Homo sapiens: one gene and its partner. The main gene of each other region encodes a partner of the protein of the gene in region 2 in a complex. Each region holds a gene or a part of one and is shown on either strand. Other genes may lie near its edges.

What was found. The genes of interacting proteins can lie anywhere in the genome.
Region 1: HERPUD1 (region 2) and OS9 share a complex: the UniProt entries of both Homo sapiens proteins name them as parts of the HRD1 complex.

The regions. Positions count from the first base shown.
Region 1 is NC_000012.12:57,689,424-57,697,155, reverse strand, and holds the start of OS9 (protein OS-9 isoform 1 precursor), read right to left. Parts: upstream 3,025-7,732; 5' UTR 2,995-3,024; coding exon 2,833-2,994; intron 2,407-2,832; coding exon 2,230-2,406; intron 1,377-2,229; coding exon 1,313-1,376; intron 1,195-1,312; coding exon 1,118-1,194; intron 882-1,117; coding exon 783-881; intron 1-782. UniProt on the Homo sapiens protein: Lectin component of the HRD1 complex, which functions in endoplasmic reticulum (ER) quality control and ER-associated degradation (ERAD).
Region 2 is NC_000016.10:56,935,142-56,942,141, reverse strand, and holds part of HERPUD1 (homocysteine-responsive endoplasmic reticulum-resident ubiquitin-like domain member 1 protein), read right to left. Parts: intron 6,908-7,000; coding exon 6,830-6,907; intron 6,742-6,829; coding exon 6,667-6,741; coding exon of another isoform or gene 6,665-6,666; exon of another isoform or gene 6,651-6,664; coding exon of another isoform or gene 6,645-6,650; intron 5,456-6,644; coding exon 5,325-5,455; intron 2,906-5,324; coding exon 2,783-2,905; intron 2,248-2,782; coding exon 1,897-2,247; exon of another isoform or gene 1,741-1,896; intron 1,277-1,740; exon of another isoform or gene 11-1,276; coding exon 1-10. UniProt on the Homo sapiens protein: Component of the endoplasmic reticulum quality control (ERQC) system also called ER-associated degradation (ERAD) involved in ubiquitin-dependent degradation of misfolded endoplasmic reticulum proteins.

The DNA.
Region 1 (7,732 bases), on a different chromosome or scaffold from region 2:
CATAGAGATCTGGGGGTCCAACACTTACCAGCACACAACTGCAGGTACAAATCTGCATTATGGAAAGATAACTCTGGCAGGTGTCATGTAATTCTTTACAGGTGTGTATATTTGTGAATACATGAGAATCACCCAAGGAACTTTTTGCATTCTATATTTGCCTGCCTCCACTCAGCTAAGGACCACTAGATGAGAAGCACTTGTAAAGAAGCTGTTTGCAGGGATGCAGGCGAGAGTGAAGGTACCGACCACAAGAAAGCATAGGAGAGTTTTGAGAGATATCTAGTGCTGGGATTACAGGCGTGAGCCACCGTGCCCGGCCTGGAAATAATGTGGGTTTTTTTTTTTCTTTTCTTTTTTGAGACAGAGTCTCACTCTGTCACCCAGGTTGGAGCACAGTGGCACGACCTCGGCTCACTGCAACGTCCGCCTCCCAGGTTCAAGCAATTCTCCTGTCTCAGCCTCCCGAGTAGCTGGGCCTATAGGCACCCGCTACCACGCCCGGCTAATTTTTGTATTTTTAGTAGAGATGGGGTTTCACCATATTGGTCAGGCTGGTCTTGAACTCCTGACCTCAGGTGATCTGCCCGCCTCGGCCTCCCAAAGTGCTGGGATTACAGGCATAAGCCACTGCGCCCGGCTGGAAATATGTTTTAAACTTTGGATTTAGGGTCTGGGAGGGGACCCCCCCCGCCCCCGCCCCGACTATAAGATGCAACCCTCTTCCCTTAGAATCTGAACTGTCCCTGTGGGAGTGTCAACTTCCCTCTCTCAAGACTCACCCGAACCTCGGCCTCCCGGGGCCTCCCATTAAGGTCGCACTTGGACCCATTGCCATAGGTCTGGCTGTGGTAGCGTTTAAGACGATGCTGCTTGGAGGCCTGGAGAAGACATGAGGCAGGAATGGGGGACATGAGAAAGATAGCAAAGAGGAAGGATGGCACTGCGTCCCCAAAGAGACAAAAGAATGGCCTGTGCCCCCAGGCCCCAGGAAACTTTGTCCTAATGGCCACCAAGCCCCAAGAAACAGATCAGCTAATCTTGACCCTCCCCTTCTTGTCAGGGCTCTCAGCCGGTGGCCAGAACCCTTTCTTCCTGAATCCCACACTCTTGCCACCTTGGCTGTTTCATCATCCCAGTCGAAGGCTGATTGGTAGTAGCCGAGATAGAGGACTTCACCTTTGATCTCTGAATCTGCAAGGGAAGCCACAGTGAAGCACTGTTACTCTTAAGAGGAGGAGGAGGAGGAGGGAACTGGGGAACTTCCATGATATGACACTAAGGGCTTAAGGAAAATATAGGAGTGAGTTACCTTCCATGTGGTATTGCTGGATGTGGCGTCCATAACAGAATTCATATGTCCACCAGTCCTTTGTCTGACAATTAAAAAATAAACAATCAGGGGGATGGAGTGCAGACATCTTTTCTTGGAACCAGAGTCTCCTGGCTCCAAGACACATAACCTCTCATCTACTTACACACTCAATTCTCTTCCCTTCACTTCCACTCTCAATTCTCCAGACTTTCAGTAAGGAGGGAGGGCTGCTTTCCTTCTGTGACTTGGAGAGATATCTCTAAAGTCTGTTTTCCACTTGTGGTCTTTCCATTCCTCCCTTTTAAAAGATTTTTTAAATCCTTATTTGCCCTCCATAAAGATAAGAAATTATGGTATCCCTGAAGCAATTATATTAGGGAAACATAGAAGAACCCAAAATTAAATATTAATTGAACTTCTTGAACATTCCTGGCACTGTTCTGGCCACTGGGAATACAACTGTGAACAAGATTAATTCTTTGACCTCATGGAGTTTACACTCTAATGCGGGGAATCAGACCGAAAATAAACAAACTGATTCAGTAAATATGATTTCAGATCATGAAAAGTGCTACGATGAAAATAAAACAGGATACTGGAGCAGAGTGATAGGGCAGGGGGTGACTTTAGCAAGTAGGCTTAAGGAAGTACTCCTCCTACCCCACGCAGACCCTCAATCTTGCTTTAGCCCTTTTCTGAGATCTTCTATCCTAACCTGCTCCTACGTTCAGCAAAGTGTCATCAGTGGTTGCAGGATTCTTTGCTTCTTTCCTGTCCGTGTAATCTGTCTACTCCTCCAGTGGTCTTCTTAACCACTACAGGTCCCCTAGATCCTGCCTCATTCAGTGGACTCCAGTTCTTGGATGAACTGCTAGTTTCCAAGCCCTCATTCTATCTAACCCAGTCCCTTTCACCTTCAGCAAGCAGGGAGCATCTCTCATTGGGCTCAACAACTCAGGGATCCCAGGCCCTTGGTAAGCAGGTGTTTCCTCCTCCCTTTCACGCTGGAAGTGAATAGCTCCAGCTGGCAGGCGACACTCATAGCGCTGTTTGTACTTAGAGGAGACAATCACCACGTCCGAAGATTGGCTCTGGGAAAGAAGGGAGGGTCGGGGGGCAAGGAAGCAAAGAAAGGCTGGGATCAGGGAGAACAACGAAATCCCTCTTCAAACCCTGGGGAAGAGATCAGTCGAAGACAGAATAAGCCATAAGCCCTCCAGCTGTATTTAGTGGGTGAGAGGAGAGGGCGCTCCCATTTCTCCACGGGGGCGGAGTCCGGGTGTTTCGATCATAAACTGAGACCTGAAGGTTGACAGCGGGAAGCCCCACCTCTCCCAATTCCTGGCCCCCAGAGAATTGGTCTCAGTCTGCGACCCCCAGGGGTCACCGTAAAAGCAATACCTACTCTTCCCGATTCCCCGTAGGCTCCAGCCCCAGACTCCGGAGCTGCCCTTCTTCCTCTATCTCTTACCCGCTTCCTCTTCTGCCCAGACCCTCGCCCCTTATACGCCTCTCACCTGCCCTCCCATGACAGGCAACGGCAGGATCTCGATCCCATAACGCATCTCACTCAGCTCCTCCAGGTTCAGGCTCCCGACACCGCCGGTCAGACTTGCGGGTAACAGGAGTCCCAGAAGCAGCAGTCCTAACAAACTGGACAGCAGCGTTTCCGCCGCCATCTTTCGTTCCCCTTCTTATGCAGAGAATCTGTTTCCGCCCTAAGCCAGGCAGCGGCCTCAACACGCCCATCGGCGCCACATGATTTTATTGGCTGTACGTTCTATCCCTCCCACGTACCCTATTCCTATTTGTAAACGTGGCTCCAAGGTCCTGGGGAGGTGGATCACGACGATTAGAAATATCAATCGCTGTCCGTGATTGGTCAGAGACCAGCCAATCATCGACAAGATCAAACCCCTCCTCGTTCCCCAATTTCAGAGGCGTGGTCTATGCGCTTGGTCCTTTTAAGTTTGCCCTCTGTCTTCGCCCAGCTGTCATGCGCATCTCATTGCTTTTTCAGACGTCTCTTGCATTATATCCTGCCCACCGCCGGGCGGAGTATTGAGGCAGATAGGTAGCGTGCGCAGTGCCGGTGAAAGTTATTAAATGCTTGTTGCAAAACAAACAATTATTATACGGACGCTTACCTCTTTTCATATATACATATTGCTTTGAGGCAATCAGAAAATTTGTGTCAAAACCTTCCTATACGATCCTGCAGTTGACCTCCAGTAAAATGACCTCCAGTAAAAATCCTAGAGAAATAATGCGGGCAGCCAGACGTGGTGGCACGCACCTGTGGTATCAGCTACTCCGGAGGCTGAGGCAGGAGGATCTCCTGAGCCCAGGAGTTCAAGTGCAGCCTGCGCAACACAGCGAAACCCCGTCTCAAATAAGTACGTACATACATACATACATACATACATACATACATACATACATACATGCATACATGGGCTTCCAGTTAAGGTGAAATTATGTATTACTCTCCAGGCCGTAAGAAAGGGAAAGGAGACAACAACAGCAACATTTTGGAAGCTGGAAATCAAACAGAAGAATGTTAACTGGTTTAGCAAACTTGAGAATATTTATTACGAAACAAAGGTAAACAAGAGGCTGATTATACCTTTGGAAAACCCTCTCTGGGGAATCTCACCAGCCAAAACGAAAAATCCCAAAGATACCCTTATCAGAGTTCTCTTAATGATATAGATAACTAGAATGAATTCCACATGTAACACTTTGGCCTACGTGCCCCAGCCCTCATTCCACTTTCCAATCAGCTTTTTAGTGTTCTTACTCTTCAAAATAAATAGCCAGAGATCATTAGACATTTAAGGAAGGACTTTAATATACAAGTAAGAAACAAACAAGAAGGGAAAAGCAAATGAGAGGAAACATAAATTGCAAGGGAGGGGAAAAAACACTAAAAATAAAAAATTTAAAAATAGGCCGGGCACGGTGGCTTACGCCTGTAATCCCAAAACTGTGGGAGTCCGAGACGGGCGGATCACTTGAGGTCAGGAGCTCAAGACCAGCCTGGCTAACGTGGTGAAACCCCGTATCTACTAAAAATACGAAAATTAGCTGGGCATGGTGGCACGCGCCTATAGTTCCAGCTACTCAGGAGGCTGAGGCAGAAGAATTGATTGAACCTGGGAGGCGGAAGTTGCAGTGAGCTGAGATTGCGGCACTGCATTCCAGCCTGGGCCACAGAGCTAGACTCCGTCTGAAACAACAAAGCATTTAAAAATAATCCATCATCAGACTTCTCAAAGAGATATTATAGAGCATTCATAAAATAACAACAGGAAACTACTTGAGAGTAACTACTATTCGGATAAGCAAAAAGAGCTCTTGGAAACTAAAACCATGTTACAGAAATAAAAATTCTATAAAAAGGCTGGGGGATAAAGTTGAAGAAGATCAAATTTGTTCTGCTTTAGGAGAAAACATAAAAATAAAGGATCAGTCCAGAAGGTCTGGACTAAATAAGAGTTCTAAATTAGAGTTCCAGAAAGAGAACAGAGAATCAGAAGAGATCATCAAAAAAACTATTTAAAAGGACTATCCCAAACTGAAGAACAGTCTCCAAATTGAACAGGCACCCTAAGTATCCAGAACAACAAATCAAACCCACACCAAGACACATCATTATAGAATCTCAGAGTACTGGACACAGAGAAAAAAATTCTAAAAGCTTCCAGAGAGAAAGAACAAGTTGCATATACAGACAAAAAAAATCAGAACATGTGACTTCATGTTGTTGCTTTGTTAATACATTTTTTAAAAATCAGTATAACATTAGGATTAAGAATCAGAACACCATTGCTACCCAAAGCAATCTATAGATTCAATGCAATCCCTATCAAAATACCAATGACATTCTTAACAGAAATAGAAAAAACAACCCTAAGAGACCTAGAATGGAACCACAAAAGACCTAGAATAGCCAAAGCTATCCTGAGCAAAAAGAACAAAACTGGAGGAATCACATTACCTGACTTCAAATTATACTGCAGAGCTATAATAATCAAAACAGCATGGTACTGGCATAAAAACAGACACAGACCAATGGAATGGAATCCAGAATCCAGAAACAAATCCATATATCTGTATTGAACTCATTTTTGACAAAGGTGCCAAGAACAGACACTGGGGGAAAGACAGTTTCTTCAATAAATGATACAGGGAAAACTGGATATCCCTATGCAGAAGAATAAAACTTGACCCCTATCTCTTACCATATATAAAAATCAAATCAAAATGGCTTAAAGACTTAAATCTGGCTGGGCGCAATGGCTCATGCCTGTAATCCCAGCACTTTGGGAGGCCGAGGTGGGTGGATCACGAGGTCAGGAGATTGAGACCATCCTGGCTAACACGGTGAAACCCTGTCGCTACTAAAAATACAAAACATTAGCCAGGTGTGGTGGCAGGCACCTGTAGTCCCAGCTATCCGGGAGGCTGAGGCAGGAGAATGGCATGAACCTGGGAGGCCGAGCTTGCAGTGAGCCGAGATCGCGCCACTGCACTCCAGCCTGGGTGACAGAGCGAGACTCTGTCTCAAAAAAAAAAAAAAAAAAAAAAAAAAAAAAAAGACTTAAATCTATGACCTGAAACTATTAAACTACTACAAGAAAACATTGAGGAGCCTCTCCAGGACATTGGCCTGGGCAAAATTTCTTGAGATACCCCACAAGCACAGGTAACCAAAGCAAAAATGGACAAACAGGATCACATCAAGTTAAAAAGCTTCTGCACAGCAAAGAAAACAACAAAGTGAAGAGACAAGCCACAGAATGGGAGAAAATATTTGCAAACTACTTGTCTGACAAGGGAGTAATAACCAGAATATATAAGGAGCACAAACAAAAGAAAAAAAAATCTAATAATCTGATTTAAAAATGGGCAAAAGATCTGAATAGACATTTCTCAAAAGAAGACATACAAATGGCAAACAAGTGTATGAAAAGGTACTCAACATAATTGATCATCAGAGAAATGCAAATCAAAACTACAATGAGATATCATCTTACCCCAGTTTAAATGGCTTTTATCCAAAAGACAGGCAATAACAAATGTTGGAGAGGATGTGGAGAAAATGGAACCCTCGTACACTGTTGGTGTGAATGTAAATTAGTACAACCACTATGGAGAACAGTTTGGAATTTCTTCAAAAAACTAAAAATAGAGCTACCATACAATCCAGCAATCCCACTGATGGGTATATACCCAAAAGAAAGGAAATCAGTATATCGAAATGATATCTGTACTCCCATTTTTGTTGCAGCACCATTCACAATAGCTAAAATTTGGAAGCAAACTAAGTGTCCATCAACAGATGGATTTAAAAAAATGTAGTACGTATACACATAGGAGTACTTACTATTCAGCCATGAAAAAGAATGAGATCCTGTAACTCGCAACAACGTGGATGAAACTGGAGGTCATTATGTCATATGAAATAAGCCAGGCACAGAAAGACAAACTTAGCATGTTCTCACTTATTTGTGAGAGCTAAAAACCAAAGCAGTTGAACTCACGGAGATAGAGAGTAGAAGGATGGTTACCAAAGGCTGGGAAGAGTAGTGTGGGGTTGAGGAGAAGTGGGGATGGCTAATGGGTATAAAACATAGAAATAATGAAAAAGACCTAGTATGTGATAGCATAACAGGGTGACTATAGTCAATAATAATTTAATTGTACATTTTAAAATAACTAAAAGGGTATAATCGGATTGTTTGTAACACAAAGGATAAATTCTTGAGGGGATGGATACTCCATTTTTCATGATGTGATTATTACTTATTGCATGTCTGTATCAGAGTATCTCATGTACCCCATAAATATATACATATATACACCACTGTGTGCCCACACAAAAATAAAATTTTTAATTGTATTTAATTGATTCCTTATCAGAACAGCATTGGGCTTACAAACTCATCAACATTGGGAGGAATGAGTGTGGTGGCTCACTCCTCTAATCCCAGCACTTTGGGAGGCCAAGATGGGAGGATCACTTGAGCCCAAGAGTTTGAGACCAGCCAGGGCAACATAGGGAGACTGCATCTTTACAAAAAAAAATTTAAAAAAAATAGTAGGGCATGGTAGCGAGTGCCTGTGATCCCAGCTTCTTGGGAGGCTGAGGTGGGAGTATTGCTTGAGCCCAGGAGGTCAAGGCTGCAGTCAGCCATGATCACGCCACTGCACACCAGCCTGGGTGACAGAGTGAGACCCTGTCTCTTAAAAAAGAAAAAATACATTGGGAGCTAGAAAATAATATAAAATATCTTCAAATTTTTTAGGGAAATTATTTCCAACCTATAATTCTATGTTCCACCAAACTATAATGTTTTTTGATTCAACATTATTTTTGTATAAATTTGTGGAATGCAAGTGCAATTTTGTTAG
Region 2 (7,000 bases):
AACGTGATGCCTTCAAAGGAAGCACATAAAAGTCCATCTTAGCTGATGTCACAGTGAGACTTACTCAAGAATCCAAGGCTCCCCACCTCTAATCACAGCAGCACCCTGATAAGCTCACTGCAAGACCCATCTACAGAGGCATTTGATCACACTGTCTCCCAGACATTCTCACCAGTCTGTAAGGTCCTTGAAGGCAGGGACTGTGTTTTATTCATCATTGCACACCCAGCCATATAAACAGCACCTGGCACATAGTATGCACTCAATAAATGCTTATGACGAACTAAACCTTACCCTTGAAAACCTGAACAGAGCGGGGAGAATGCATATACCTACAAAGCTATAATTATATATAACATAATGACAACCTACATTTGGTCTTTTAAATATATGATTCTAGAGACTACAGAAAATATTAACTAAACGTTTTATTTGAAGAAACCAATTAAATCCCAAGTCTTAAATATAATAAAATATTAACAATGACTAATTGTGGATATTTGAGTGTTCATTATATTCTAATTATTCCTTTTTTATTTTTAAAAGCTAAAATAAAAATCCATTTTTACTATACAGGAAAATTTCTTCTTTTAGTTTCAACCACGAAGACCCATCACTCTAGGCCAGGCTTTCTCAGCTTTGGCACTAGTGACATATTGAGCCAAATATTTACTGTGGGAGTTGTCCTGTGCATTGTAGAAAATTCAGCAGCACTCTTGCTTCTACTAACTAGACGCCAGCAGGACCACTTCCCCTAGATGTGACAACCAAAAATATCTACACATTGCCAAATGTCCCCTGGGGAGAGAGGGTACAAAACCACCCCCAGTTGAGAACTACTGCTTCGGGCCACAGCTAAAACCAAATGTCAGGTATGTGAAGGTTCCCTTGCCTTTCAGGGCCATGCTAACAGTCAGTGCCTGACTTTACCCTGGAAGGCAGCTGTGGTCTGATAAAGGCAAATGTGTTCTCATTCAAAACAAATACAGTTTTCTGTTCCATGCCTCAGTATGGCTACATACTTGTGGTTTGTGAGCCTGGAAGGTAAGGTAGCTTATCTAGAGGACAAGATAATATTCTTATATTAACACAGGATTGATATGTTCTTGGGACCATACAACCAAGCCATGAATTCCTTGTATCGAAAGTGCCAGAATACATACTATTTATTATGTATTTATTCTAAGACAGGGTCTTGCTCTGTCACCCAGGCTGGAGTGCAGTGGTGCGATCTTGGCTCACTGCAACCTCTGCCTCCCCAGTTCAAGCAATTCTCCTGCCTTAGCCACCCAAGTAAATTACAGGCCCGTGCCACCACACCCGGCTAATTTTTTGTATTTTTAGTAGAGACGGGGTTTCACCATATTGGCCAGGATGGTCTCAAACTCCTGGCCTCATGTGATCCTCCTGCCTCGGCCTCCCAAACTGCTGGGATTACAGGTGTGAGCCACTGCGCCCAGCCACAGAGTGATATACTATTTAAACACATCTCCTTCTACAGTAACTGAGACTGCTCAAAAAAGAGCAAAATCTGGCCAGGCGCAGTGGTGGCTCACGCCTGTAATACCAGCACTTTGGGAGGCCAAGGTGGGCAGATCACTTGAGGTCAGGAGTTCGAGACCACCTGGCCAACATGACCAAACCCCGTCTCTACTAGAAATATAAAAATTAGCCAGGCATGGTGGTGGGCGCCTGTAATCCCAACTACCCAGGAGGCTGAGGCAGGAGAATCGCTTGAACCTGGGAAGCGGAGATTGCAGTGATTGTGCCATTGTACTCCAGCCTGAATGACAGAGCGAGACTCCATCTCAAAAAAAACAAGAAACAAAAAGAGCAAAATCTGCTTAGTGTGAACACAGTGTAGTGTAATTTATATTAGAGAAACCATCTGCTTACAGGTACATAACAACGGTGGCCCCCATGACCATGAGGAATCTGCTCAGGGAGGAGTAGAAGTAGAGGATACTGAGAAAAACAGAAAATGTAGCTGCTGAATAGGTCCAATCCAACCAATCTCGATTTATTTCATCATCTTCTTCCACAATAGGGCCACCTTGTGCATTCATCCGCAAATTTTGATTGGCTCCAGGATTAACAACCACTTGAGGAGCAGCATTCTGATTGGCAGGCTGGTTTTCAGCTGGAAACTGGTTGTGAATAGGGGCTGGAGCAGGTGCAGAGACCACAGGTATCTCTTGTGCACTTGGTGGTGGAACAAAAGCCCCTGATGCAGCAGTGGCTGCTAAACTAAAATAAAAACGACAGAGGCAGATACTGTTGAGACCAAAGCACCGTGAAGTCTGTGGCTTATTTACACAGCAGTCTTTTACTGTTAAGAATTTCAAGTAGGTAGATATGCCTTTGATTTTTCTTCAATTTAGTGAAGAACTTCCTTACTAACTATATCTATAAATGCCTTTTCTAAGAAAAGCCACAAGGTGAATTTCACCTGAAATTAAACATCAAGCCCACTGTAAGATTATGGCACAGTAGCAAATTAAAATCCTCACAAAACTTTGAAGATAGCACAAATTGAAAAGAAAGTAACATGTTCTAAATAAAGTCACTAAACTATGTATCAGACAAAAGCACCCTTGTGTCAATACACAAATCAGGTAGCAGCTGTCATTTACACTCTACCCACAGACCAAACAGAGCAGGGCTCTGCAGACTGATGAAAATACACTCATCCCTCCATTCTGAACTTTACAGGTAACATGGATAAAATTCCCTTCAATTCCCGGGAGCCCTGGCCACACCCAGCATGGCGGGAAGGACTCACTATTGCATGTAGTACTGTCGTGCATATATCTGCTGGAACCAGGAAAGCTGAAGCCACCCATAGGGTGTGTAACCGGAGAAACCAGGACCCAGGCCTTGGAATGCCTGCTGGGCAGCTTCAGGCCTATACATAGATTTGAAAAAACACTCATTTTGAGTGGGTTGAGTATGAACAAATGAAAACTAAGTTTAAATTAAAATCAAGAATTCAAATCGAAGAGACAGAAGAATGGAATTTACGGCAGTTACATGGTAAATGACTGTATGACGCACCCATGTACCACAAGCACAGAAGGTACTAAATGACACAGCACTTCTACCACAGTCCCATCCCACAGGAAAACAACAGCCCTTGCCACCTGCTTGCTGAGTGCACAGATATATAAACAACCTTTTTGGGTTAAGTAGATCCCACCTCAGTTTTGACTTGTTGAGTCTCACTGCAGGTCTCAACCCACTGTTCATCTTTTAGAGAGCAGCTCAAAAGCCACATTTCTCCCAGTCTTTCCTGAAGGAAATCTCTCCCATCCTCCCAATATCCACTTCTTCCTCCATCCTCCATCTGAATCTATAGTGAAGTGTGCATGTGGTATCACCTGTGCATGCTTACTGACCACCGGGGGTCCTGTACAGGCTGCTGGGTCCACAGCAATCTCATGAAGGAGATTTTACAAGGGGAACCCAAGTACAGCTCAGGGAAGACAGGGGCTTTGCACAAGGTCACTGAGCTAGTAAGTAGCAGGGCTGGATTTCAGAGCTGGTCTGATGTCAAATGCATGCTTCTTTTTTTTTTTTTTTGAGATGGAGTCTCGCTCTGTTGCCCAGCCTGGAGTGCAATGGCGCAATCTCGGCTCACTGCAAGCTCCACCTCCCGGATTCACACCATTCTCCTGCCTCAGCCTCCCCAGTAGCTGGGACTACGGGCACACGCCACCACACCTGGCTAATTTTTTGTACTTTTAGTACAGACGGGGTTTCACCGTGTTAGCCAGGATGGTCTCAATCTCCTGACCTCGTGATCCGCCCACCTTGGCCTCCCAAAGTGCTGGGATTACAGGTGTGAGCCACCGCGCCCGGCCAAATGCATGCTTCTTTAATCAGGCCACACAGCCCTCAACTTCACAGGGCAGGTGTATGCGAGTCATCTTTGGCTTTGTGCTTCTTACACAGTCAATTTCTTCAGTAGCACATCACAAAATTGAAACCATAATAGAATTGCCCAAAGATCAGAAATTGGTTATGTGGTCATTCCTGCAGGTCAACTCATATCCTTAAGCAAAGTTGTATGTACTGGCTGTTCAATAAATATTTGTTAAAGGAAATCAAGTTTAAATATGGTGAGATTCAGAGAGTCAAATATGAGCCTCAATTCTCAAGTTAAGAATAGTTGAATCAGAATAAGGGAAGTAGTTTTAAGTTTTTCTAACCAATAATTTTCTATCCAATAATTATCCAATTTATATGCTGACAATCTTTTAACTAAATTCCATACACAGAGTATTTCTAAAATAGTATTCCAATACAAGTAAGCTTTGGTATGATGCTGTTTTTGATCATTTAAGAAAATTACAGTGCATGGAAATAAAATGATAAAGTGCTTTTAAGATTTCTGTTAGATCTGATAATGGCATTCTAGATATACAAGATAACTAAAAGGTTTTCATAGTTATATACTGAAGAATATAGGGATGAAATAACATGATGCCTGGGAATTACTTTTAAATACTCTTTTTTTAAAAAAAAGGGAAAGGGTAATAGATGAGCTATGGTAAAACTCTGATTGTTATTTATTAGGCCTGGGTGATGGTGTGGGGATTAATTATCCAGTCCCCACTGTTGTGTATATTTGAAAGTTCCATTAAGGGGGAAAAGGAAGAAAAACTCATTCCTAAAACACCTGGCTTTATAAAATATTGTGTATAAAAAGTACTAGAAAAAGGGGGACGGAGAATTGGAGAGTTACAGAATTGCAACTTGCAGTTAATGAATTTTTCCCCAAAAACAATGTATTCCAAGAGCTATAAAAATCCAAATAACAGAGCATTTAGTTCTGACTTTTGCTCTAAAGAAAAGCTTTAATAGTTATAAGAAATTGGCCAATTTTCCTAGTACCCCCAAGTCTTTGGAAGGACACTTCTTAAACAGTCTCTCCCTTGTTGTCACCCATTGTTACAATAAAGCACAAAGCCACTCAGCAAAGCAGCTGCACAATGCTTACGACAGCTGTTTTCTCCTGCAGCAGCACTAATTTCCTATCATGACGGCAACCAAGCGGTCAGCACAATGGAAGGATAAAACGCCTACATTTTCTTTTTTTTTTCAATATATGCATTACCTACTTTTTAAATTTGTGTGTACTAAAAGGCTGTGTATTAAGAAAAGTTAAATATATAAGAGATCTTTAAAGCGAAGCTATTTATAAAGCAAAATTCTGTATGTTTAAAAGTTCTGATTATATACGTGTAAACATACCTTATTCTTAAATTGATGCAAACGAGGAACATTCATGTTGCATAAGCCAAGATCTTTATTATAACACTCACCTTGAGATGTTTTCCCATCCAGGGGAAGAAAGGTTCCGAAGAACTTCCCTTTGCCTTAAACCATCACTTGAGGAATCCTCAGGATACTGTCCCCGATTAGAACCAGCAGGCTCCTCTGTGGATTCAGCCACCTAAATAAGTGTAACATGAACACAGAACAAAGGAGCTGATGCAACTGTCTGAAATCAAGCAAAAGGAATTATTTTGCTGTCAAGGGCTTACATCTCCTACCCCCCACCTCTGAACGTGACAAAATTAAACAGAAGCAACGTTATGTAAAAAATAGTCTGACATTTATTCAACATAATTTTCAATACATAGATGCTAAAATATTCATATTTTTTCCCTAGAGTATGCTACACTTTCATTAAAATCTTCCAATGAAGTTGTCATTGGTGAGAAAGCTTCCTGATAATGGTGCTAAATTTACTCATTGCAGACATCTGACCAACAAGATTTATAAATACAACCCAGCCCACAACTTTCTAAAATAGTATTCCAATATAAGTAAGCCTTGGTATGATACTGTTTTTGATCATTTAAAAAAATTACAGTGCAGGGAAATGAAATGATAAAGTGCTTTTAAGATTTTTGTTAGAACTGATAATGGCAAAATAGGGAATTTCCTATGCTCTGTTCAGATGTTCTAGGAAATATAATGCAAATTTAGAGTGCATCACTACATTAGAATACTAATACCATATATGTGAATAAACATTGTGAAATGAAAAATAAATGGTTTCGTGTGTCATATATGTCTTTAGAGCCAGGTCTAGTGGCACATGCCTGTAGTCCCAGCTACTCAGGAGGCTGAGGTGGGAGGATCGCTTGCCCTCAGGAGTTTGAGAAAAGCCTGGGCCACACAGCGAGACCATTTTTAAAAAAAAAAAATTCTTTAAAGATCACTTGATAAAAACTCTGATCTTTTCCTATCCAACTAATCACAATGAAAATTTCCAAAGGAAATATATTCACTTTTGTACTCTTTATAAAAATTAGTGACTCCTTTGAAGAAACTTGCTATGTGCTAAATTCAATAAAAACCCGATTAGTGTTAGTTCAGTAATCTAGATACACAGTAACCATAGATCAAATCATATCCCATAAGATAGTGCAATATGTAACTCCACCTTTCTACTACAGCACTAACGGAACAATCTGCTACTATTAACTCATCACTTTGTGTTGATAATACAGTTTCTAATTCCTAGGAAAGAAACAAAATATTACTTGGTAATAACACCATACAGTCTCTCAATAAACGTTTTATCCAACTTCTTTTATTACTCCCCTGAAAGTCTGAATGATACAAATTGTTACCATCATGAAGAGGCAGACACACCTTGGCGTTGATTTCTGGCATTTTTGAAGGACTCTTCACATTGCACACCAGATGCAAAACATGCCGTTTTTCCTGCTAAAAGTAATACGAAGGTACTTAAGGACCTGAACCTAACCTGGTGAGTGCTTAAAAACATTCAGAAGTTAATGTGTAAGTGATGTACCTTTGGAAGCAAGTCCCTGAGACATTGGTGATCCAACAACAGCTTCCCAGAATAAATTAACCTCTGGTCCTCTGGACGCTGATCATGGAAAGAAAGAGTAACACAGGTCAGCATTTCACCCCTACAAGTTCCTAAACACAGAATAAACTGTTTTATACAAGTAATTTGAAT